7 linked regions of the Homo sapiens genome follow. The protein of the gene in region 1 purifies or fractionates together with the protein of each later gene. This does not show direct contact. Each region holds a gene or a part of one and is shown in the gene's direction. Other genes may lie near its edges. The genes, in order: SNX12, PTPN23, AKR1A1, PPIL3, GNPDA2, MIDEAS and SNTB2.

The links.
Region 2: the proteins of SNX12 (region 1) and PTPN23 purify together in Homo sapiens (affinity purification with mass spectrometry; one large-scale study listed by BioGRID and IntAct). This does not show direct contact.
Region 3: the proteins of SNX12 (region 1) and AKR1A1 fractionate together in Homo sapiens (co-fractionation; one large-scale study listed by BioGRID). This does not show direct contact.
Region 4: the proteins of SNX12 (region 1) and PPIL3 fractionate together in Homo sapiens (co-fractionation; one large-scale study listed by BioGRID). This does not show direct contact.
Region 5: the proteins of SNX12 (region 1) and GNPDA2 fractionate together in Homo sapiens (co-fractionation; one large-scale study listed by BioGRID). This does not show direct contact.
Region 6: the proteins of SNX12 (region 1) and MIDEAS purify together in Homo sapiens (affinity purification with mass spectrometry; one large-scale study listed by BioGRID and IntAct). This does not show direct contact.
Region 7: the proteins of SNX12 (region 1) and SNTB2 purify together in Homo sapiens (affinity purification with mass spectrometry; one large-scale study listed by BioGRID and IntAct). This does not show direct contact.

The regions. Positions count from the first base shown.
Region 1 is NC_000023.11:71,058,747-71,062,040, reverse strand, and holds the end of SNX12 (sorting nexin-12), read left to right. Parts: intron 1-73; coding exon 74-198; intron 199-922; coding exon 923-1,025; 3' UTR 1,026-2,794; downstream 2,795-3,294. UniProt on the Homo sapiens protein: May be involved in several stages of intracellular trafficking.
Region 2 is NC_000003.12:47,405,021-47,408,520, forward strand, and holds part of PTPN23 (tyrosine-protein phosphatase non-receptor type 23), read left to right. Parts: coding exon 1-61; intron 62-728; coding exon 729-778; intron 779-894; coding exon 895-1,026; intron 1,027-1,304; coding exon 1,305-1,385; intron 1,386-1,460; coding exon 1,461-1,592; intron 1,593-1,682; coding exon 1,683-1,730; intron 1,731-2,109; coding exon 2,110-2,166; intron 2,167-2,288; coding exon 2,289-2,347; intron 2,348-2,484; coding exon 2,485-2,564; intron 2,565-2,676; coding exon 2,677-2,791; intron 2,792-2,869; coding exon 2,870-2,935; intron 2,936-3,324; coding exon 3,325-3,470; intron 3,471-3,500. UniProt on the Homo sapiens protein: Plays a role in sorting of endocytic ubiquitinated cargos into multivesicular bodies (MVBs) via its interaction with the ESCRT-I complex (endosomal sorting complex required for transport I), and possibly also other ESCRT complexes.
Region 3 is NC_000001.11:45,564,326-45,567,825, forward strand, and holds part of AKR1A1 (aldo-keto reductase family 1 member A1), read left to right. Parts: intron 1-2,243; coding exon 2,244-2,363; intron 2,364-2,543; coding exon 2,544-2,695; intron 2,696-3,500. UniProt on the Homo sapiens protein: Catalyzes the NADPH-dependent reduction of a wide variety of carbonyl-containing compounds to their corresponding alcohols.
Region 4 is NC_000002.12:200,872,078-200,875,577, reverse strand, and holds part of PPIL3 (peptidyl-prolyl cis-trans isomerase-like 3), read left to right. Parts: intron 1-3,500. UniProt on the Homo sapiens protein: PPIases accelerate the folding of proteins. It catalyzes the cis-trans isomerization of proline imidic peptide bonds in oligopeptides. May be involved in pre-mRNA splicing.
Region 5 is NC_000004.12:44,713,057-44,716,556, reverse strand, and holds part of GNPDA2 (glucosamine-6-phosphate deaminase 2), read left to right. Parts: intron 1-1,897; exon of another isoform or gene 1,898-1,961; intron 1,962-3,500. UniProt on the Homo sapiens protein: Catalyzes the reversible conversion of alpha-D-glucosamine 6-phosphate (GlcN-6P) into beta-D-fructose 6-phosphate (Fru-6P) and ammonium ion, a regulatory reaction step in de novo uridine diphosphate-N-acetyl-alpha-D-glucosamine (UDP-GlcNAc) biosynthesis via hexosamine pathway.
Region 6 is NC_000014.9:73,750,304-73,753,803, reverse strand, and holds part of MIDEAS (mitotic deacetylase-associated SANT domain protein), read left to right. Parts: intron 1-3,500.
Region 7 is NC_000016.10:69,242,664-69,246,163, forward strand, and holds part of SNTB2 (beta-2-syntrophin), read left to right. Parts: intron 1-2,938; coding exon 2,939-3,152; intron 3,153-3,500. UniProt on the Homo sapiens protein: Adapter protein that binds to and probably organizes the subcellular localization of a variety of membrane proteins. May link various receptors to the actin cytoskeleton and the dystrophin glycoprotein complex.

The DNA.
Region 1 (3,294 bases):
TACACGGTGCTTTACCATCTCATTCCCACTCTGTCTCTCTCCCATGTGGCTGGAATTTTGTGTGTGCCTGCAGATTGTAGTACCACCACTGCCTGGGAAAGCCTTGAAGCGGCAGCTCCCTTTCCGAGGAGATGAAGGGATCTTTGAGGAGTCTTTCATCGAAGAAAGGAGGCAGGGCCTCGAGCAGTTTATTAACAAGTAAGCCAAGTTCCTGGGGGCTCCACTTGCTACTTTTGCCATCGTAGTCTTTCTATATGTTTTGTTTACCTCACCTTTTATTTTATTTTTATTTACTTATTTATTTATTTGAGACAGAGTCTCACTCTGTCACCTAGGCTGGAGTGCAATGGTGTGATCTCGGCTCACTGCAACCTCCGTCTCCTGGGTTCAAGTGATTCTCCTGCCTCAGCCTCCTGAGTAACAGGGATTACAGGCGCCGGCCACCATGCCCAGCTAATTTTCATGTTTTTAGTAGCGATGGGGTTTCACCATGTTGGCCAGACTGGTCTCGAACTCCTGACCTTAAGTGATCCACCTGCCTTGGCCTCCCAAAGTGTTGGGATTACAGGCGTGAGCCACCGCACCCAGCTCACCTTTTATAATGGGTACCATGATGTGGTGCCAATTGTGTGGTGGGCTGACTGGACAGTAAAACTCCATTCCTTTGAGTAGGATTCTGATCCTGTGTGTCAGGGCCTGAGAAAGCACTGCATGTTGGTTATATCTAGGGATTTCCCTGTCTTGCCCCTCTATCCCCCGTCCCCTTTACAATATTAGGGTTGAGGTGGTACCCTACTGCTGTCCTCTACTGGCTTGAACCTCAGGGCTGACCTTGCCCTTCTTCCCCTGTCCACATCCCCATCCCTCTGCTAATTCTCTCTGATTCTGAATACTACTGATAACCATCCTGGTTTCTTTATAGAATTGCTGGGCACCCACTGGCTCAGAATGAACGCTGCCTACACATGTTCCTGCAAGAGGAGGCAATTGACAGGAACTACGTCCCGGGGAAGGTGCGCCAGTAGGAGCCCCTCTCACCACCTGCCCTCTACTTTCCTGCTGAAATGACATTGGTTTTTACACTAAGCCTCTCTCTGTCTTTGATCTGAAGTTGGCTGCCCATCTCCTGGCCTGATAGACTGTCTGGCATTGTGCTCCCTGGTACCTGACTACACCATGTGGGCACTCTGCTAGGATCCTCTTCTCTGAGGAGAGGTGGGAACCCACAGGCAGATGCCCTTTGCTTGGGGTTGGGGTGGGTGGGTGGGGGGATTAGACTGGAAGGCAATTTCTTGGGCATTTACCCATGCCAGAAGGCTAACCTGGGGGGAGGGGGGCGCTTGTGCTGGTGAGGCACTTGGATACATACTGATGCTGCAAGTTCAGGGGATTTTTCTTACTCTTAGGTTTAACCAAGAACACTGAGCAGGGAAAAACCCTGCCTTTCCTAACTGCATGTATTTTTTCCTTTTTGGAAAGGTGGTAGAGACTCAGAAGCTTTCCTTGTTTTCTTCAGGCCTGCTCCCAGTTTTCTTAACAGTTTCTTTTGTTGCTTTCTCTCTCCCTTGTTGCTTTCCATGGCAGTAATCCTCCTAGAGTCCAAGCAGTCTGTTGTATGGAGCAGGGTGTGTGGGTTTTCTGGGCCCATCATTATGGCTGCTTCAGAGTCAGAAGAAAGCCATAGGGCAGTAGGGGAGCTCCTATTGCCTAGCCCCTCTCCCTTTGTGGCTCCCACTCTAGCTGCCTATTTTTGCTCATCAGCTGGTGAGTCAGTATGGGCCAGCAGTTCTCCCTCCCTAAGCCCTTGCTACTTTATGGGTTAGCTTTGCAGGTTTGGTGGCTTGAGGGGTGGGGGCAACTCACCACTGCCAGGTAACTCCCTGAAGGGTGGGAGTGGATTATCTTCTAGGCTCTTACCCGCGGTAGGGAAGGGCATCAACACTGTCTTCCTTCCATTCTCCTTTCCCCCATCCCATTTAGTGCTGCCACAGGGCAGAAGCACACAAACCAACCACACAGTCTCTGACTTCTCCTAAGCACTTTGAGTTGTTGAATGGGGCTCAGGGGCAAGAGTTTTTGCTGCCCTCCCCAGCGTGGTCACAGGGTTATTGAACTGCCTGCACTTGTTTCTCATGCAACTCCAGCATTTTCCCCAGAAGTTGAACTATGGATAGCAGCTTGGTATGGATTTCCTAAATCTTAACATTTGAAGCAGCTTCTTGAGGCTGGCAACTATCCTGGTTTCTGTCTTGGAGGGGGTGGTTTGTTTGCTGGGGCCCAACGTCTGTCCCAAGTGGTGGGGTGAGAGTAAGTTAACTTTGGTGCCAGGTGAGAGGTGGGGGCTCTTTGCTTAGACTCCCTATCATGGAAAGATTGGAGTTTTCTATGCAGGGCACTGTGGAAAAGGATTGCTGATTCTGACTGACCCTGATCAGAGAGATTAGGATTGTATTTTGACATAGGATTTGGAACCCATCTAAATGTTGAAGTTCCCTGAGACAGCTCTCCAGCTGCTGAGCCTGCGCCAGGGGCTAAGCAGCCCCTAATGAGAGGCTCTGCTCCCTTTCCCACCTCGCCAATGTTGTTGTTGCTGCCTTTTTGATTTGTATCCTCTGTTATAGACATTTTTTAAAAACGATTTCCTCTTTCATTGTGCACAAGTGCTGAGAGTCTGAGGCCCCATTTCTGCTGTGTATATATATCCTGACTCGGGGCTTTTATTCAGCAAACTGTTCATTCTTCTGTCAGACAATGTCATATTCAACTCTGTTCATATTAAACCACTGTGAAGCAAGCCTCTGTTTTCCTGCTTAAGTTGTAAATTTAGTATTCTTTAGTGTCTAGGATATGCTGGGTATTATGCAGAAATCATACAGTGTGGCCAGTGTCCTGAGGTAATGTTTTGCATTTAAATTTTTTTAGAAAGCAGAATCTTAACTTATCTTAATGATATTTACCTATCCTTTTTGCAACTCACAACTGACTTTGTCACAGAGGTAATGCATCTGCTTGCAGGAAGTAGCTGTAGGCTCAGTACCTGTTGTTTGAGTCAGATTTAGCAGATTTGGTTTTTAAGCTTGTGGGTTTGTGCTAATTTGGGCAGAATATATTTATTATATATGTGTGTGTGTATGTGTGTATGTGTGTGTCTGCATATGTAATACATGTACATAAACACACATGCATGTGTTCATCCTCTGACACACCCACACAACACCAACAAACATTTCTTCTATAGGCTTTTTATCTCAACTGACACTGTTTTTTTTCCCAAATAAATTTGACACAGGCAGA
Region 2 (3,500 bases), on another chromosome or scaffold:
GGCAAGTCTGTGGCCCATGAGGACATCAAGTACGAGCAGGCCTGTATTCTCTACAACCTTGGTGAGCTGCCTGATCCCTTCCCCCGGCCCTACTCCCCAGTCCTGCCAGCCTAGCTTTCAGCTCTTCAGATGGCCACAAAGGCAGTGGGCTGATAAAGGGAGGACTCCAGGATTCCCGCCCCTCCACTGACCTCCCCACAGCCCTGCCAGCTCCTCCACTGTTTTCTGGGCTGGGCCCGTGGGGAGCCTCTGCTGGGGCGAGGCTCTACTGGGCTGGCTGCCACACAGAGTTGCCACTGTGTGCTCTGTCTGGGAGAGAGGGCCTTTCTTCTTTGACTGGACAGCCCCTCCCCACTGTGGTTTTGGGCTGCTTCAGGCAGGAGGAGAGTGTGGCTGGCCTCAGCTTACCCTGCTAGTCAGCCTTAGCCTGGCTCAAGGGAGAAGCTTGGGGAGCCCCAGAGTTCTGTGCAAACATCCCTGAAGCTTCAAGATTGGACCCCTTGGACAGGAGCCCTTCCATCCTCTGCCAAATGCAGAGCAGGAGACTGAGGGCTGGGCAGGACTTCTGAGTTTCCCTGTTCCCTCCAGCTTGGGTGTCCTTGGACTCGTTGCCCTGGTTCTCAGAGCCATGTTGTCCTGATTGTGGATAACAGCAGTGCCCCCTCTGTCTCACCTTCACATGGGTGTGAGCAGCCCCAGGCCCCTAACACTGTCCCCTCCCTCCCCAGGAGCGCTGCACTCCATGCTGGGGGCCATGGACAAGCGGGTGTCTGAGGAGGTGAGGAGAGGGGCAGTAGTGGAACATGTGGACATACCAGGGAGGGGCAGCCTCCCAAGTATGGATGAATCCTGACCCATGGAGTGGACACAGGCCATCCTCCCACTCCCTCCCAGGGCATGAAGGTCTCCTGTACCCATTTCCAGTGCGCAGCCGGCGCCTTCGCCTACCTACGGGAGCACTTCCCTCAAGCCTACAGCGTCGACATGAGCCGCCAGATCCTTACGCTCAACGTCAACCTCATGCTGGTGAGGAGGCGCCCTGGTTGGAGTGGAGTTGAATCCAGGGAAGGGGATGGCCAGGGAGGGGGCAGTTGGGCCTGGATCCTGGACCAAGGCAGTGAGGGACAAGCAAGGGGCCTTGGCTTTGTTGAATCAGGAGCACCGTGGTGCTGCTTGGAGTGGGGGCAGCTGGGGGAGAGGGCAGTGAAGAGGGATCCCTCAGTCTGCCCCTGGGGAAGGATAAAGGGAAGGGGAAGCGGGAGGCCTTGGGTGAGCGAGGGAGTGCACCTCACGTGTCGCCCCAGGGCCAGGCTCAGGAGTGCCTCCTGGAGAAGTCGATGTTGGACAACAGGAAGAGCTTTCTGGTGGCCCGCATCAGTGCACAGGTAGGGACGGGGCTGAGGGGAGGCCTTCACTTTACTGCTGACTCCCCCACTCATTGGGCCCCACCCTGTTCTCAGGTGGTAGATTACTACAAGGAGGCATGCCGGGCCTTGGAGAACCCCGACACTGCCTCACTGCTGGGCCGGATCCAGAAGGACTGGAAGAAACTTGTGCAGATGAAGATCTACTACTTCGCAGCCGTGGCTCATGTGAGGGCCTGGGGCCCCAGGGCGGGGCAGGGCGGGGCTGAGTGGCCACAGCTCAGGAAGCAAGTCGTGGCGTCTCTTCTTCTTTCCCAGCTGCACATGGGAAAGCAGGCCGAGGAGCAGCAGAAGTTCGGGGAGCGGGTGAGCTACAGCGAGGAGGGGACTGGGGACCAATGGCAGCCTTCAGTGAGATGCCGGTGTGCTCCCGCTCCTTACACACCAGGGGGTGGCCTTCTCTGTCTCACCCTGGCCATCACCCTGCTGGAGGCCTGGTGTCTTAAGTGTTGTCCCATCTGTGCAGCCCTCGTCCCTCGGGGTCTGAGGAGGTGGGGCAGGCTCCCTACAGAGCAGGTGGCTGGGGCAGGGTGTGGCGCCACCTTGCTGCTGTTGGCTGGGGTGGTGCCCGGCTGCCTCCTGAGCTGCTTGTCATCTGATGGACAGGCAGGGCCGGGTGGGAGGCAGGAGGAGAAAGGGTCCAAGCAGAGGAGGACAGAGCAGGCTTTCCTGCCACCCTCCACAGGTTGCATACTTCCAGAGCGCCCTGGACAAGCTCAATGAAGCCATCAAGTTGGCCAAGGTAAAGCTGAGGAAGGCCTGGCTGCCCTGAGGGTATAGGAGCAAGCCCGGTAGGACTGAGGGGGTGTCCTGGTGCCAGCCTTGGTTAGTGCTAAGGCCCCACCCCTGTCCCTAACCCCACAGGGCCAGCCTGACACTGTGCAAGACGCGCTTCGCTTCACTATGGATGTCATTGGGGGAAAGTGAGTCTGTGGGGGTGGCCCTGGTTCCCTCTTTTTGTGAAGGGTCTTGTCCCTCTGCTGGCATCTACATGGGAAGTAGGTTCTGGATCCCCACTGACACCCCGTGACTGCCCACTCCCCCTGCTCCTGATCCCCAGGTACAATTCTGCCAAGAAGGACAACGACTTCATTTACCATGAGGCTGTCCCAGCATTGGACACTCTTCAGCCTGTAAAAGGTCGGGGAGCTGAGAGGTGGGGGCAGAGGTGACGGTGGGGTGGGGACAGGACACAGGAGGCTGCCTCAAGGACTCTGCGTGGGCCTGATCTCCACAATTCCCACCCCCCCAGGAGCCCCCTTGGTGAAGCCCTTGCCAGTGAACCCCACAGACCCAGCTGTTACAGGCCCTGACATCTTTGCCAAACTGGTACCCATGGCTGCCCACGAGGCCTCGTCACTGTACAGGTGGGTGGAGGGTGGCACAGAGGGAGGTGGGGTGTCTTGAGATGTGGGTCTTCAGCAAATGCTCTGTCGCTTCTGCAGTGAGGAGAAGGCCAAGCTGCTCCGGGAGATGATGGCCAAGATTGAGGACAAGAATGAGGTCCTGGAGTGAGTGTGGGACTTGGGCAGGGAGGCGGAGGCAGGCAGCACTTCCCGGGCCTCTGGGGGCCCCAGGGCTGCCTATGCTGGGAGAGGAATGAAATGTCCATTCCAAACAGGTTTCCCAATGCTGCCTTCCCGCCTGGGGTGGTGGGGCTAGTGTGTAAGGCAGGAGTCATGTCTTGGGAGGAGGAGGTGCCTTCTGTTCCACTGTTTCCAGCAGTGCCCTGGGCATGTTCTGTGAGACCAGGCCAGACCTGGTAGTAGGGGTCCGAGGTCACAATTTGCTCTCTGCTGAGACCTCAGATTGAGTGGTGAGGCTTGCCCTAGCGGCTCCTTTGACATGGTCAGAGTTGGATCAGCACCCAGCACCCACCTGGCCCTGTTGCTCCCCACAGCCAGTTCATGGATTCAATGCAGTTGGATCCCGAGACGGTGGACAACCTTGATGCCTACAGCCACATCCCACCCCAGCTCATGGAGAAGTGCGCGGCTCTCAGCGTCCGGCCCGACACTGTCAGGAACCTTGTACAGTCCATGCAAGGTGAGTAAGGGGCAGAGCAAGCAGGTGGAA
Region 3 (3,500 bases), on another chromosome or scaffold:
TCGGCACCCGGGTGGGGATCTTGAATACTATGTCAGGCACCCACAACAAGAGCTTTGGGTGCTTTGTGTCTAGGGCCGGGTACCCTTGTTTCTGCTGCTGATGCCGTGTTTCCAGTCTGGATTTTAGCAAAATTAACTGACCCATCCTTCTATCTGATGCCTGTTTTCTTCTCTCTCATTAGGGAGTTCTGGGTCCAGCTTTTAGCCCACTTATCTGCCTCCAGCTTTCAGCCTACTTATCTGCCTTCCTTAATCTTTTCCCCCTTCTAACCTCTTTTGCTGGCCTGTGCTCCCAGAGTTCCCAGAGTCTGTCTACACAACTCCCTGTATGTCCTTGGCCTAGGAATTTTTTCCTGTGTTTCTCTAACCAGCTCCTTAGAACCTGGAACTTGTTTCCATGGTCTATACTTCTTTTCTCTATTTATCCATCTGTCTTCTGATTGAAAAAAAAAATTATTTATTTTTGAAAATTTTTAAATTTTTATTTATTTATTTATTTATTTAATTTTATTTTTGAGATGGAGTCTTGCTCTGTCGCCCAGGCTGGAGTGCAGTGGCGCAATCTCGCCTCACTGCAAGCTCCGCCTCCTAGGTTCACACCATTCTCCTGCCTCAGCCTCCTGAGTAGCTGGGACTACAGGCACCCCCTACCACGCCCAGCTAATTTTTTGTATTTTTAGTAGAGACGGTGTTTCACCGTGTTAGCCAGGATGGTCTCGATCTCCTGACCTCATGATCCACCCACCTCAGCCTCCCAAAGTGCTGGGACTACAGGCGTGAGCCACCACACCCAGCCATTTTTTTTTTTTTTTTTTTTTTTTTGAGAAGGAGTTTCACTCTTGTTGCCCAGGCTGGAGTGCAATGGCATGATCTTGGCTCACTGTAACCTCCACCTCCCAGGTTCAAGCGATTCTCCTGCCTCAGCCTCCCAAGTACCCGGGATTATAGGCATGCACCACCACGCCCAGCTAATTTTGTATTTTTAGTAGAGACGGGGTTTCTCCGTGTTGGTTAGGCTGGTCTCAAACTCCCGACCTCAGGTGATCCACCCACCTCGGCCTCCCAAAGTGCTGGGATTACAGGTGTGAGCCACCGCGCCTGGCTTTTATTTAAAAAAAAAAATTTGTTTTCAATTTTTTGTTGTTATTTTTTTTGTGTTTTTTTGAGACGGAGTCTCACTCTGTCTCGCCCAGGATGAAGTGCAGTGGCATGATCTCAGCTCACTGCAGCCTCCCCCGCCTGGGTTCAAGCGATTCTCCTATCTCAGCCTCCTGAGTAGCTGGGACTACAGGCATATGCCACCATGCACAGCTAATTTTTGTATTTTTAGTAGAGAAAAGAATTTCACCATGTTGGCCAGGCTGGTCTCAAACCCCTGACCTCAGGTGATTCACCTGCCTCTTCTTCCCAAAGTGCTGGGATTATAGGCGTGAGCCACCACGCCTGGCCTTAATTTTTTTTTTTTTTTTAAAGAGGTGGGGGTCTCACTATGTTGACTAGGCTGGTCTTGAACTTCTGCCTTCAAGCAATGCTCCCATGTCAGCCTCCCAGAGTCCTAGGATTACAGGCGTGAGCCACTGTGCTCAGCCTGAAAAAATATTTACTGAAGCCCTCTTTATGGTAGATGCCGGGAAAATATTGTTAGTTTTTGCTAGACCTTGCTGAGATGGCTTGGGTAGGAAGGCATCTTAGAGACTGGTTGGGGTGGGAGCAGAGCAAAGGGTTTGGAGCCTCTGAAGAGGCTTCTGGTCCCTTAGACTGAAACCATCTTCCATCTTTTTTTTTTTCTTTCTTTGTTTTGAGATGGAGTTTCGCTCTTGTTGCCGAGGCTGAAGTGCAGTGGCACAATCTCAGCTCACTGCAACCTCTGCCTCCTGGGTTCAAGTGATTCTCCTGCCTCAGCCTCCTGAGTAGCTGGGATTACAGGCACCTGCCACCACACCTGGCTAATTTTGTATTTTTAGCAGAGATGGGGTTTCACCATGTTGGCCAGGCTGACCTCCAGCTGGCCAGGCTGGTCTCGAACTCCTGACCTCAGGGGATCTGCCCACCTCAGCCTCCCAAAGTGCTGGGATTACAGGCGTGAGCCACCGCGCCCAGTTCATCTTCCATCTTTTCACCTCCACTGCATAGATGTGCCTGTTATATTTCTGAGCCCCCTTCCCCCAGCATTGACCTTGGGGTGGTGACAGTAGAAGGCTGAAACCAACATAGCTGAAACCTCTGCTTCTCTCACCTGGCAGGTAAAAGCAGCTGTTAAGTATGCCCTTAGCGTAGGCTACCGCCACATTGATTGTGCTGCTATCTACGGCAATGAGCCTGAGATTGGGGAGGCCCTGAAGGAGGACGTGGGACCAGGCAAGGTAAGGACTGGGGTTGTAAATAGAGGTGGGATAAGAGAACTTAGAAGCTGAAGCTAGGGCTGGGGCCCAGCTGGAGGGAATCTGGCATCAGCTTCCTTCCAGTTCCTCTCCCAGAGTTGAGGGTGGGTGAGACCACGTGCTCATGGCTCTTCTCACTGTGGGCCCTGCCCCCTGCACTAGGCGGTGCCTCGGGAGGAGCTGTTTGTGACATCCAAGCTGTGGAACACCAAGCACCACCCCGAGGATGTGGAGCCTGCCCTCCGGAAGACTCTGGCTGACCTCCAGCTGGAGTATCTGGACCTGTACCTGATGCACTGGCCTTATGCCTTTGAGTGAGCCTTGCCAGAGCCTCATCTGGGGAATCAGGGGGTTGAGCAGGATGGTGTTAGTAACTTATTGTAAGTCACAGCAGCAGAGCAGGATAGGAACACTCATTTGCATGCCAAGCTGAGGAGCTTGACATGGGATCTTAGCCTCTTCTGCTACAGCAGCTTAGCTGTAGCTACAGGAGTTTAACTCTGGAAAAAGGAAGGCAGTCTCACATGGTGTGTACCCCAGGGTATGCACCTGTAACCCTCCTGCTCCCTTTATTCATTTAGAAAAGGTGCTGACTTTTCTGTTGAGCACCTGGGGTTACAGTAATAAGTAAGTCTCAGCAGAAGATGTGAGAAGAGCTCACCATTAGTGCCGTGCCCTGTGCTGGAAGAAGGGTGGATAACTCCCTGAGGATGAGTTAAGGAAGACTTCCTAGGGGAGAGGAGATATCTACGTCTAGGAAGAGGAGGGGGCATAGGCATTCCATGTAAACTTAACACCTGGGTTACGATCTGGAAGGATGAAAAAGCATGGCTTTTTTTGGCCAGGCGCGGTGGCTCACGCCTGTAATCCCAGCACTTTGGGAGGCTAAGGCGGGCGGATCACGAGGTCAGGAGATCGAGATCATCCTGGCTAACACGGTGAAACCCCGTCTCTACTAAAAATACAAAAAATTAGCTGCGCGTGGTGGTGAGCGCCTGTAGTCCCAGCTACTGGGGAGGCTGAGGCAGGAGAATGGCGTGAACCCAGGAGGTGGAGCTTGCAGTGAGCTGAGATAGTGCCACTGCACTCCAGCCTGGGCGGTAAAGCGAGACTCCATCT
Region 4 (3,500 bases), on another chromosome or scaffold:
GAAAAAAAGAAAAGCCGGGTGCGGTGGCTCACACCTGTAATCCCAGCACTTTGGGAGGCCAAGGAGGGCAGATCATGAGGTCAGGAGATCAAGACCATCCAGGCCAACATGGTGAAACCCCATCTCTACTAAAAATACAAAAATTAGCTGGGTGCGGTGGTGCGTGCCTGTAATTCCAGCTACTCAGGAAGCTGAGGCAGGAGAATGGCTTGAACCCTGGAGGTGGAGATTGCAGTGAGCCAAGATTGCGCCACTGCACTCCAGCCTGGTGACAAAGCGAGACTCCGTCTCAAAAAAAAAAAACTTTCCCAGAAGACCCAGAACTTAGTAATGTGACCACTCCTTACCTACAATGGAGGGTAGAAAATGTATTTCAGCCACATTGCCACCCTTACTAAAATTAGATTTCTCCGAGTAAGAAGAATGGCTCCTAGGAAGGTATTTCACAGTTTCTGCCAGGGTATCTATTAAGAGTACTATGTCTGGGAGTTGCTTTTATAAATCAGTGGGAAGTCAATTTGTCTGTTCGTTCAACAAATAATTATCATGCTTAATAAACCAAGGCACAATTCTAGAGTTTGTTCTATTTAATAGTTTGGATGCCAAATTAGGTTAATTAAAAATAGAGGACTCCCAGTCTAGGTAACATAGTGAAACCCCGTCTCTACAAAAAAATTTAAAAATTATCCAGGTGTGGTGGCTCACACCTATGGTCCCAGCTACTTGGGAGGCTGAAGTGAGAGGATTGCTGGGCTCAGGGTGTCAAGGCTGCAGTGAGATCTAGACAGATCTTTTCTTTTTCATTCCATATACATGTATCTAATTTACACATTAATAATAATCAAGGAGAAAAGAAATATTACAACATCTAGTAGTTTTTTTATGTTTGTAAATAACCCAGTTTCCCTCTTATTTTCTCCCTTAACCAACATCATTCAAAATTATTGTTCAGTTATTACCAGGACTCATTTTACTGGATTTGCGACAAAACTGTAGAGTTTAGAACAAAGATTAACCTTAGGTTCATTAATTCCTTGTTTGTTGTATACAGATGCACACACATTTTTCTGGGAAGATGATCCAGTAACTTTCCTCTAGTTCTCCAAGGGGTCCGTTTCCCATATACTTGACTCTACTTAACTGCCTCAGTTCTACCTGCTGGGTTTTTTTAACTTTTTACCTGAGACCTATGTTTTCTACCTCCTCTGTTTCTCTTACTGACCTAGAAGGTGGGATAGCCTTTAAGACTTATAATTTAAAGACTTAAATGTCTATATTTAGGGGTAAAATCAAAATGTTTTGGTTGAAGTACCCATTTTGTGAAAATGCAAAATAAAATGCAAATCTGCTAATTTTTTTTTTTTTTTTTTTTTGAGACAGAGTCTCACTCTGTCGCCCAGGCTGGAATGCAGTGGCGCCATCTCAGCTCACTGCAAGCTCACCCTCCTGGGTTCACGCCATTCTCCTGCCTCAGCCTCCCAAGTAGCTGGGACTACAGGCGCCCGCCACCGCGCCCGGCTAATTTTTTGTATTTTTAGTAGAGACGGGGTTTCACCATGTTAGCCAGGATGGTCTCAATCTCCCGACCTCGTGATCCGCCCGCCTTGGCCTCCCAAAGTGCTGAGATTACAGGCGTGAGCCACTGCGCCAGGCCTACAAATCTGTTAATTTTTTAAAGTACATACCAGTGGTTGAGAATCCCTAATCTGAAAATTAAAAATTAGGAACTTTTTGAGCACTGACATGATGCCACAAGTAGAAAATTCCACATCTGACCTCATGTGACGGGTTGCAGTCAAAATGCAGTCAGATGACCAGGTGCAGTGACTCACGCTTGTAATCCTAGCACTTTGGGAGGCCAAGGCGGGCAGATCACGAGGTCAAGAGATCAAAAGCCACTCTTTCTTAGCAAATGTTTTAGACTGAAATTTCCAAAACTTGTATTTGAAGAATAGCTCTCAATATATTTTTTCTTGGTGGTAACATGAAGTGGGATTGCTGGAGGCTGTTAACTGTCAGTCTTCTCTTCTCCTATTTTTATTACTTCTTGTTGTTATCCAGAAGCAAAAAGTAGAAATGCCATAATTAGGCCAGACGTGGTGGCTCATGCCTATAACCCCAGCACTTTGGGAGGCTGACGTGGGCAGATCACTTGAGGTCAAGAGTTTGAGACCAGCCTGGCCAATGTGGTGAAATCCCATCTCTACTAAAAACACAAAAATTAGCTGGGCATGGGGGCATGTGCCTGTAGTCCCAGCTGCTTGGGAGGCTGATGCAGAATTGCTTGAACCTGAAGGAAGAGGCTACAATGAGTCGAGATAGTGCTACTGCACTCCAACCTGGGCAATGGAAGTGAGACTCCATCTCAAAAAAAAAAAAAAAGAAAGAAATACTATAATTAAACAATTAACTGCTGGGCTTGGTGGCTCATGCCTGAATCCCAACACTTTGGGAGGCCAAGGCGGGCGGATCACCTGAGGTCAGGCCAGACCAGCCTGGCCAACATGCTGAAACTCCGTCTCTACTAAAAATACAAAAATTAGCCAGGCGTGGTGGTAGGCTCCTATAATCCCAGCTACTTGGGAGGCTGAGGCAGGAGAATTGCTTGAACCCAGGAGGAGAGGTTGCAGTGAGCCGAGATCACACCATTGCACTCCAGTCTGGGGGACCAGAGCGAGACTTCATCTCAAAAAAAAAAAAAACAAGTACAAAGTGGAGTGGTCACCTACTTTAGGACTCTCATTGTAGGGCAGTATTGCTAATAGTGTCATCTACATACTTTCTCCATGTATTTCCTGTAGCAAAGAAATCTTTATGACTAGTGTGTTGTAATAAGACATACATATTTGGACTTCATCCGTGGTTTCCAGCATAGTTCTTTTAAAAACCTTGCAATTTCCTGAGTGACAGGAGTGAAAGGAATATTTTATTGTTCATAATAAACCCCATTCAACCATACCTGAGTTTATGCTAATGAGGTGACTCTTGGTGGGGTTCTAGATAGCTTCAGTATGGAGGGCTGGTTGCCAGAGGAATCAGCCATGTATTTTTAGAGGGGTGGAACATTCAGTGACCTCCTATTCTTGACCTCTGGGAAGGAGAGAAGGGCTGGAGATTGAGTTCCAGTCACTAGTGGCCAGTGATTTAATTAATCGTGCCTACCTAATGTGCCCTCCGTAAAAACCCTAAACAGGGTTTGAGAGCTTCCAGGTTGGTGAACACAAGTAGATACTAAGAGGGTAACACACCCCGAGAAGAGCATGGAAGCGCTGTGCCCCTCTCTCAGACTTTGCCCTATGCATCTCCTCCATTTGGTTGTTCCTGAGTTGTAACCTTTATAATAGCCCATAGTAATAAATAAAGTGCTTTCCTAAGTTCTATGAGCCATTTTTGAAAATTATTGAACAGAGCTGGGGGGCATGAAAAATCCCAAATTATATCATGGTTAGTCAGATAGTACAGATCACAATCGGGACTTGGAACTGGCATCCGAAGTGGTA
Region 5 (3,500 bases), on another chromosome or scaffold:
TTACCAAATTCCACTTGTAATTTATATATGTGTGTGTATATATAATCTACAGTTAAAAATAAGTTTTTTCCTTTGTAATGACAACGTGGTTTTCTATTATCAGTGTAAACTATCGCAGACAGCTAGCTAATTGCTATAAGAATAGTTCAACATCAACTAAACTAAAATCAAAATTTTTTGCCAGATTCTTTAATATTCAACTAAAAATACTAATGCTGTAAATTATCTGTATATAACTTATTATTAACTTAATAGAACACTGATCAAAATTACATGAATTTGATCTTCAATAGAGCTGTCCTGAGGTTAATTTATACTTGAAGTGGCCAAGTATGGTTGAGATAGTTGATTATCATTGGGGGAAATTTGGTTTTAAAGTCAGACGTAAAATTGTATCCTGTTTTAGCCACTTAGTATCTGTATGACCTGGGAAAGTTTATTGAAGTTCAGTATAGGTACATCATTTGTAAAAGAGGATTAATATTAAACATTCCAAAATTTGTGAGAATTAATCATGTTGTAACATGTATAAAATGCCTTACACAGTGCTTGGTATATAGTTGGTACTCCATAAGTGCTACTTCAGTCTTCTCTTTCTCTCTCAACTGTAAATGCGGAAATAATTGTCCCTTAGAATTACTGAATTCCTTGGGATTTTTACCGAATTCCCTCTAGGGACATCCAGGAAGACTGAAATCTTCTCTTTAAGATAGTTTTTACTTCTACCTAGCAGAGTCAATAACATTTACTTTCTTGATAGAATGGTTGTTTATTGGAGCAAGAAACCAAGTTAGACTATTGCTTTTCAAATTAGAAGGTTATCTGTTTTAAATAAAATTTACTAATATTACTTCAGTAATCCTAGAGAACATTTGCATACTCCTGCTTTGTACGTATGACTCAATTTTGAGATAATTAACCATTTGTACCTTCCAATATTCAGGCTAGACAGTAGATATTTGAGAGTGTCTGAGGGGTGCATAGACCATCTAATCTTTAGATTTTCTAAGCTCCACACCAAAATCTGGTAGAATTACTGGAGTACCACATACTTCAACTGCTTATATCAAAAAATGTTTTCACTCATTTACTATAATGCAAAAAAAGGCTCTTAGTTGTTTGAGGTTCATTATTAAAAGTGGCTGCTTGAAAATATCTTCATTTGTAGACTTTCTTTCCCCCTTGTTAATTTATTGACCTTACATAAGTATGCATGTGACAAATCTCTTGTAGACCCAAAGGTAGGAAATAGATTTTACTATGGGGAATAACACTGATAAGAACACTTGATTTTATTCCTTTGCCTGCCTTCCAGAAAGCATTCATAGCATAAAATAATGTTTAAGCCTGTAATTCTTATCCAAGATGTCTGGTAGAACTTTCCTCTTTCCTTATAACTTTAAATCATTTCGTACTTCTTTTCAGCTAATTTTTTTTGGGAGGGGGTTATGTTTCTTCAGTATAAACCACCTCAGTTCTCCTTTTGAAATAGATGTTGCATAAGTTATAATTATATATGTTTATCACTGACACCACTAAAAAGAATTTGACTTGGTTTTTTAACCAGTTTGTCTTAAGCTTCCTGTAGTTGTTTCCCCGCTCCTCCCCGCTCCCAAATATATTTTAAGAGAGTTCCTGTGCCTCTTACATTAACATCTTCACTGTAGTCATGGATGATCCAATGCCTGACATTTTATATGTACCATCTAAAGGACATAATTGTGCAGAGAGAGAGAAGGATTATTGCATTTTCTTTGAACTTTTCCTTATTTGGGATGCCCTATTATTGGATATGTATTCATGAAAGAATCTCATTTGTTGATCTAGGTTTATCATCATTGGATTTTTAGATGAGGATTGGCATCTGGGTCTTACAACTACCCTTCTTTTGTTCCAGGGTTTGGTTAATAAAAACTCTAAGAACTGTGCCAAATGGGATCAAAATATCAGCTTTATTAAAGGTAAAGTTGAAATAGAGATTGCAGTTTGGGCTTGAAGCCAGAATGGGGTTTTTCACTCCTGCCCTTTGAATTGGAAACAGTAGAATGAGAAGAGCTCAAAAATGTTAATCTGCTATTGCTCATTCCAGGGAATTAGAGCAGAGGTCCCTTTCCTCTGAGGGAAGAGGGAAAGAAAAAGGAGGAAATACATACTCAAATGTTCTAATTCCTCCTCTGATGGCAAACGTGTTCAGAGAAAGGGTAAAAGGTGTATCATGCAATTCCTGACTTAACCCCAGCAATAAGATATACAAACATGGATTTTTAAAAATAAAATCTAGGGCTGGGATCCGGTGGCTCACACCTATAATCCCAGCACTTTGGGAGGCTGAGGTGCGCAGATCACCTGAGGTTGGGAGTTCGACACCAGCCTGACCAACATGGAGAAACCCCGTCTCTACTAAAAAAAAATACAAAATTAGCTGGGCGTGGTGGTGCATGCCTGTAATCCCAGCTACTCGGGAGGCTGAGGCAGGAGAATCACTTGAACCTGGGAGGCCGAGGTTGTGGTGAGCTGATATCGTGCCATTGCACTCCAGCCTGGGCAACAAGAGTGAAACTCCGTCTCAAAATGAATAAATAAATAATTTTAAAAATCTAGTTTTACAATAAAATCTAAATATATAAACTTTTAAAATATCTTAACGCAGTAGTGTCTTGGGTTTTTTGTTGTTGTTGAGACAGAGTCTCGCTCTGTTGCCCAGGCTGGAGTACAGTGGCTTGATCTTGGCTTACTGCAACCTCCACCTCCCAGGTTCAAGCGATCCTCCTGCCTCAGCCTCCTGAGTAGCTGTGACTACAGGCACTTGCCGCCATGCCCGGCTAATTTTTGTATCTTTAGTGGAGATGGGGTTTTGCCACATTGGCCAGGCTGGTCTCGAACTCCTGACCTCTGGTGATCCACCTGCCTTGGCCTCCCAAAGTGCTAGGATTACAGGTGTGAGCCACTGCACCCGGCCTAATAGTGTTTTTAAAAAGTAAAAATAAAAGAAGACAGTGGAGAAAATGTTAACCTTCTGATTTGGTTGCATGCTTGGATTCTTTGCTTTGGTAGAAAAAGGAAATAACTAATGGGATCAAAAGTAAATTAACTGGAATGATTCTAGGGTAACTCACAAACTGAAGGAAAAGTTAAAACAACCAAGTCTTTGGAAAAACAGAGAACCTCAGATCTCAGAAGTAGAAACTCATCAATCTTCTCCCTGCAGTGCTGTCATCCAGTGCTTCAGTTCACCATGCTGTCTTCGTTAACTGTATCCCTGGTCAAGATTCAGATCCAGACAGATATTTTGATTGGCTCAGCCTGAGACAAGTGCTTATCTCTAGACCACAGTCACTTTACCTAAGAGGGATATAGGAAATTAAAATTGTTCCAGCCCCTCTGGTGAGGGGAGCAAGGCAGAAGAGAACAAGGTGGGAGGTGGAATAAACTATACCGAGCTGACCAAAGAATAGCAACCATACATTCATTTATCCAGCCATTATTTAATAAGTGCGTCC
Region 6 (3,500 bases), on another chromosome or scaffold:
TGGACTTTCTGGCCAGACCTCTCTCTCCTGGGTCTGTAGGCCGGAAGCTCTGCGTGCCTGCAGAGCCCCACACTGTTGCTAGGACTTTGAGTCTCCCTGTCCCGCCCTTGCCTGGCCAGCCTTGCTCTCAGCCAGCTGTGGAACTGGAAGAGTTGGACTATTCATTTCCTCCAAGGTGTTAAAGACTGATAACGATGTCTGAGCCACCCCTACCCAGCAAGGGAGACAGGAAACACATTTATTGAGTGCGTACCCTGTGCCAGGCGGCGCTTCATCTATGTATTACCTCATTGAATCCCACAATAACTGAGATGAAACTGTTGTGCCCATTCACCAATAGGGAACCCCAGGCTCACAGAGGCTGGTGATTGGAGAAGCCAGCACACATTGCCCCTGACTACTTTTACCCTGCAGCTCCCACACTTCCTCCGGCTATTTTCATGTGCACAAGGAACAATGCTTTGATCCTTGGTATGAAGTGCTGATAGTAGGAATTCAGGCACCATTAGACTGGCTGGTAGGGGAGATATCTTGGGCTGGGAAGGGTGGGGAAGACCTCCCTGCTGCCTCCCTCTCCAGATGCTTCACAGGGCAGCCAGGAGCCCAGCCTTGAGCCCTGAGGCCCTTCTGTGGAGGACTCAGCTGTGGGCCTGGGGACTGCTCGGCCAGGCACATGCACAGGAAGAGGGGAAAGGCTTGGTTTCAGCTTAGTGTGGGCTTCCTGGGGACCTCCCAAGTGTGTCCTCCCCCTTAAAGGTATCCCAGCCTCTGAGGTACTGAGAACAGCTCTGGGGAATCAAAGGCTGGGGCTAGGTGGAATCTTTGGTCTCCCTTCTTGGCTGCTGGGTCTGACCTGGGGCCCATCATTCCAGCTGGCTTGGCCCAGGTCCCAGAGAGTCTGGTTGGTGTGTACTTGGGGCTTGGGCTGGATGCTCTGCTGTGCCCGCATGCTGTGCCAAAGGCCTCTGGGTGTATTTCAGGAACAATAAAGAATAAATCAACATAGGAGAAAAGGCCCTGCAGCAGCTGCTCAGAGACTGGAGAAATGCAAAGAATGTGTGAGCCTTTGGCAAAAGTCTTGCATCTTGACCAGGGCCTGAGGAAGGGCGTGAGGCTGATGTGATGGCTCTGGAGTCAAATGGGCGTCTGTCTGTGCCCAGTTTGCAGCCCTTCTAGGAGGCCCCAGGCAGCCACACTGAGACTCCCCTCCCTCTGCTGGTGGCAAATTTTTTTGCTTCCTGGTCGCTAGCATGTACTAGGGAGCCATATTGCCCCCGTTCTTTACTCTCACACTACACTGCCAGACACCGACCCATCCAACCCCCAAGCACCAGGTGGGTCTTGGCCCTTTCCAGCCCTGACCAGTCAGGAGAGCCTGGGTTGATGAAGACTTGGTAGGCTTGACACACATGCTACACCCCCTGCTTTACCTCCCCCAGACGAATGTCAAGGACCTGGCAATGCCAGGTCTAGGGGTGCTAAGTGTGAGAACATCTACCTGGGAGGCCGTCACTATAGCTCTGCTCAGGTAGTCAGCCATGTGTCCTTAGGCAGGTCATTTTACCTTTGAGGTCTTGGTTCTATGAGCCATGAAATTGAGGTTTGGACAAATGATCTTTGGAGTGAGTGGGCACCTCTGTCTCCTCTACTCGGGATGTGCGATGAATATATTTTATTTAGGAAGTTAAGTTATTGGGAGAAGCAACACTCTGAGAGCACCATGTGGAGATATGGGTGGCTGTGGCTGGGGGCTAATGCTCAGTGTCCTGAGTGGGGGAACCCAAGCAGAGACCTGATTTGACCCAGAGCTCAGGGTGCCAGGAGAAGGGACAGGAGCCTAGACTCCATGGGGACTTGAGTTATCTGACAAGCAGGGGAGAGCCAAGACTTTATTTATTTTTTTGAGACAGAGTTTTGCTCTTGTCGCCCAGGCTGGAGTGCAGTGGTACGATCTTGGCTCACTGCAACCTCTGCCTCCTGGGTTCAAGCGATTCTTCTGCCTCAGCCTCCCGAGTAGCTGGGATTACAGGTGTGCGCCACGATGCCTGGATAATTTTGTATTTTTAGTAGAGACAGAGTTTCTCCATGTTGGTCAGGCTGGTCTCATAAACTCCTGACCTCAGGTGGTCCAGCTGCTTTGGCCTCCCAAAGTGTTGGGATTACAAACGGGAGCCGCTGCATCCGGCCTGGCTTTATTTTTAAAGAGCTGTTGGCTAACCTCAGTTGTGGGGTTGGAGGGTGTGGAAGGGGTGTGACTTCCTCTTAGGCAAAGATGCCGAGCCCTCCACAGGTTGGCCCACTGGAGGTAATCACCTGTAGCCTCTTCACCTTCAAAGCCACTCACCTGCCCGGCCTCTCCCACCCACTTTACCCGACCAGCCACATCTCAGAACATCATGGTGGTTTTCAGGGGCTGAAGCTGCTCTCCAGGGAGCAGACGTGAGCAACCCAGAGGCTGCTGCTGTCTATCCCAGGCAGCCTGGTGTGACCTCCAAGTCTGAAACTCTTGGGGGAGGAAGTTTGCAGAACAGGCAGGCCTAGGTGCCAGTCCTGGCTTTGCCTCTATACTGCTGTGACCTTAGGCAAGTGATTTGACCTAAGGTCTTCTCAGATTTCTTGTTTAGAAAGGAGGAGTAATAATACCTACCTTGATGGCCTGGTGTGGTGGCTCACGCCTGTAATCTCAGCACTTTGGGAGGTTGAGTTGGGAGGATCCCTTGAGGCAAGGAGTTCAAGACCAGCCTGAGCAACAAAGTGAGACTCCATCTCTACAAAAATAATAATGATAATATCTACCTTTCTGTGAGATGATTACACAGGATAATGTGTGTAGTGTGCTTAGCACCATGCCTGGCACATAGTAGCACCTTCAATGGAAATTTTGGAGGTATTGATGAAGCCTTGTTTGTGTGATGTTGGGATAAACCTTGGCTCCATGCTTTGCCCAGTGTCTTGCCAAGTGGTGGGGCCTGCCTAAATGGAGGCATGAAGCATTGTTATTGGAGTCCTTGATTTTGCTCCTGGCTGTGTGTCCTCGGACGAGTTTATTTCCTTCTCTGGACTGCTCTGTGGAACGAGGAATTGGAGTAGGTAAACATTGACATCCCTTGATATTTGGAATCTGTTCAGCTTTCCCAGCTGGGCCCTGCTTTGCCAGTTGGCTCTGAAGAGAGGCCCAAGCCACCTTTCTCCATGTGGCATGGAGGCTTTTATTCCAGAGTGAGATGGTGCTGAGCCTGCAGCCTCCAGCTCACCTCTGCAGTCCCCCATACCTCAACACCCTTTGGGCTCTCTTGGCTTCCAGGGGCTTTTACAGATACCCCCAGTCTGGAGGGGAAACTGTTTCTGGCTGACTGGGGCTAGGATAATTTCTTAAGAGGAGTGTTAATAGACCATGCTGTGCTTGGAAATGCCCCCAGGGAAGAGCAGCAGCTCCGGAGCTGGCTTTGTGAAGTTCTCAAGTGTAGCATTCCTTCTGAGGCCCACCGGTGTAGATTTCA
Region 7 (3,500 bases), on another chromosome or scaffold:
AGAAGAGAAGGGATCACAGTAATGCTTTTGGGGTGGGAGGAAGCCCACCTTCACGTTCAGTAAAAGGGATACGTGAGGCCGGGCATAGTGGCTCAAGCCTGTTATCCCAGCACTTTGGGAGGCCAAGGCGGGTGGATCACGAGGTCTGGAGATCGAGACCATCCTGGCTAGCACGGTGAAACCCCGTCTCTACTAAAAATACAAAAAATTAGCCGGGCGTGGTGGCGGGCGCCTGTAGTCCCAGTTACTGGGGAGGCTAAGGCAGGAGAATGGCGTGAACCCAGGAGGCAGAGTTTGCAGTGAGCTGAGATTGTGCCACTGCACTCCAGCCTGGGCGACAGAGTGAGACTGCATCTTAAAAAAAAAAAAAAAAAAAAAGGGATACATGAATGGAAGAAAGAAAATTAGCTTCAGCATCTGAACACTCAAAACAGTTTGTAAACATCAGTGTTTAATTAAATTATTTTGAGGATTATCTTCAACTATCAGGAAAAATGAAATGATTCTGAAATATGTTGTGGATTCTGAGTTGAACTGAAAGCTCCATGTGGGGGTGTAAAGGCTCTGCTTATCCAGCCACGTGTCCAGGTTAAGGCCTTAACATAGGACTGAAACAGAAGACTGTTAACTTTTTGCCATTCCCAAACATAGAAACAGATGTCCATCCACAGCTCTTCAGCCATTCTGGATGGCTAATTAGATGGGGGTATGGACTGCATTGCCATCAACTCAGATAAAATTCATTGCTCTTTTAATAAGGCAATACATAAATTGTATGTGTATGTCTGTTTTTGTTTTAGGATGTGTGTAGTAATCAGTTCAGTGATGCTACTGTGTGATTGAATGAACTGAGTAGATCGTTAAGGGTTCTTTTCTAACCACTATATTATTCAAGAATTCATTTAGAATGTCTTTAATTTCCTCCAGTTGGTAGCCCAATAGTGTACTGCCTTAAATGTTCAAAAAGCATGCCTCTGCCATTTGCAGTAACTGGAAACCTTAGGAATTTCTGCCAAAGTCCTTCAAAGCATAAAGCTGAAGTATGTATTGAAATGCTTGAGTCAGCTGCTCAAGGGTTATACTGACTGCACTCCTGCTGATTTTTCTAGGGTAAAAAAATCTCCTTGGTGACCTGAGGCAGCTACCCAGAAGCACGTGTATTATAACTATGCACAAAAAGCACAGAGATATACTACATCTAAATTCTAGCATTGGAATTGTTATATTTTTTATTATTATACTTAATTTCAGTAAATCTTTTTTAATAACGTATAAGAAAATAACTTTAACTCTTCTACTGATTACCATTAAAATTTTTTAACTCTTCTCTAACTTTCTAATTTAGGGAAGGAAAAAGAAAGGTACCTACTGTATTTATTGAATGTTTAGTATGTGCCTGAAATTTTTATTTGCTTAGTGTTACTCCCATTTTGTAGATGAGGACCTCAGAACAGTTAAGTGCGGTCACATAGCTTTGAATAGCAAGCACAGTTAGGATTTGAACAAGGTCTTCTTGATTCCAAAGGCATCTCTATGACCACATCATGCTGTAGAATGAGCTATCAACTATTAGGCCTATAAAAGACTATCAACCTTATTAAATAAAAAAACTAAGGTGCAGCACGGTAAGCATAATGTACCACCATATGTATGATCAGATATACACGCATGTGTATGTGTTTATTTTCATACATGCTTAGCATACCAGGCATCTCTTTGAATGGTTGCCTCTAGGAATGGAGACAGGGTAGCTAGAAATCTGGACTTTTATTATAAAACCTTTTATACCTCTTGAGTTTTGTTTTATGTGCATGTATTACCTATTCACAGGAGAAACTGTGTGTACCACTGTGCCCAGCCAGTTTGTCTAGTTTTTGAAACAAGAACACCATGCCTCGAGTGACAGTAATTGTAGTCATGACTGAAGTAAAACAAGTATTTTATGAGTTTTAAATTTGAACTTAAAAAAGCTTCCTATCTACTAAAAGCTTGATTTTCATTTGGGGCCACATTAATGGAAATAGAGTATTTTGAACAAGCAAGGGGGATCAGTTGAGTTGGCTTTGTGCTTATTAGATCATACCTTATCTTGAATATACTTTATTTTTGCACTTGATTTTAAGAACTGTAATGGCCTGTTTACATAGCTGTCTCCCCTGCAAGGCTGGGCATTCCTTGAGGGATAGAATCCATGGCTCATTTGCCCTTGTGTCTTTACTGGCTAGCCTAATTCCCAACACTTGGTAGGTAGCTAATAAAAGTTGATTGAGTTGAATGGAAATAGAAATACTTAGCTTAGTATGGGGAGGAGAGAGAAGAGAAAAATCTGTCTTCAGATAATTACAGAGTTCTCATGTAGAAGAGAGATTAAGTTTGTTCTATATGGCTTGAGAAGACAGGGAACCAGTGGGTAGAAGTATGGAGAAGTTTCTAAAGGTTGAATCATCTAAAGCCTAGATGGGTCTGTCTTAGAATCTATCTCCAGGGGATTCATGGCTCTTTAACTTACTTTTTTCCCCCATTTTTTGTTTGTTTGTTTGTTTGTTTGTTTTTGAGGCAGAGTCTTGCTCTGTCGCCCAGGCTGGAGTGCAGTGGCACAATCTCACTGCAGCCACCGCCTCCCGGGTTCAAGCAATTCTCCTGCCTCAGCTTCCTGAGTAGTTGGGACTACAGGCGCATGCCACCACGCTCACCTAATTTTTTGTATTTTTGGTAGAGATGGGGTTTCACTACGTTGACCAGGCTGGCCTTGAACTCCTGACCTCAAGTGATCCACCCGCCTCGGCCTCCCAAAGTGCTGGGATTACAGGAGTGAGCCACCGCGCCCAGCTCTTTCCTCCACTTTGTTATAGATATAGCATGTATGTGAATACTTTAGTTATCATTTATTATAGGAAGCAAAATTACTAACCTTCTTCTTTGATTTTTTTGTTCATAGTCAAGTTCATCCGAGAAGTAACACCATATATCAAGAAGCCATCATTAGTATCAGATCTGCCGTGGGAAGGTGCAGCCCCCCAGTCACCAAGCTTTAGTGGCAGTGAGGACTCTGGTTCGCCAAAACACCAGAACAGCACCAAGGACAGGAAGATCATCCCTCTCAAAATGTGCTTTGCTGCTAGAAACCTAAGCATGCCGGATCTGGAAAACAGGTGAGGTGTACCTAACAAGAACATCATACCTACAGCTTTACAAACTTAAGGACATGTTGCAGTATTATATGACTCTGTTAACTCAGTTATACAGAGGAAAACATCTGTCTGAGGTGAGAGATGCATTTTTGGGGTTCCACATTTTAAGTTATTCTACATATATACATGTATATGTGTAGAAAAAATTTTGAACAGACACACAAGAAACTGTTAATGGCTTTACCTCTAGGGTGTCAAATAAGACTAAAGGGGTGAAAGAAAGAGGGGGCATCTTTTCTTCCTTTTATGTCTTTCTGTAATGTTGTTATTACTTTTTTCACTATGAATATGTATTACTTTATAATTGAA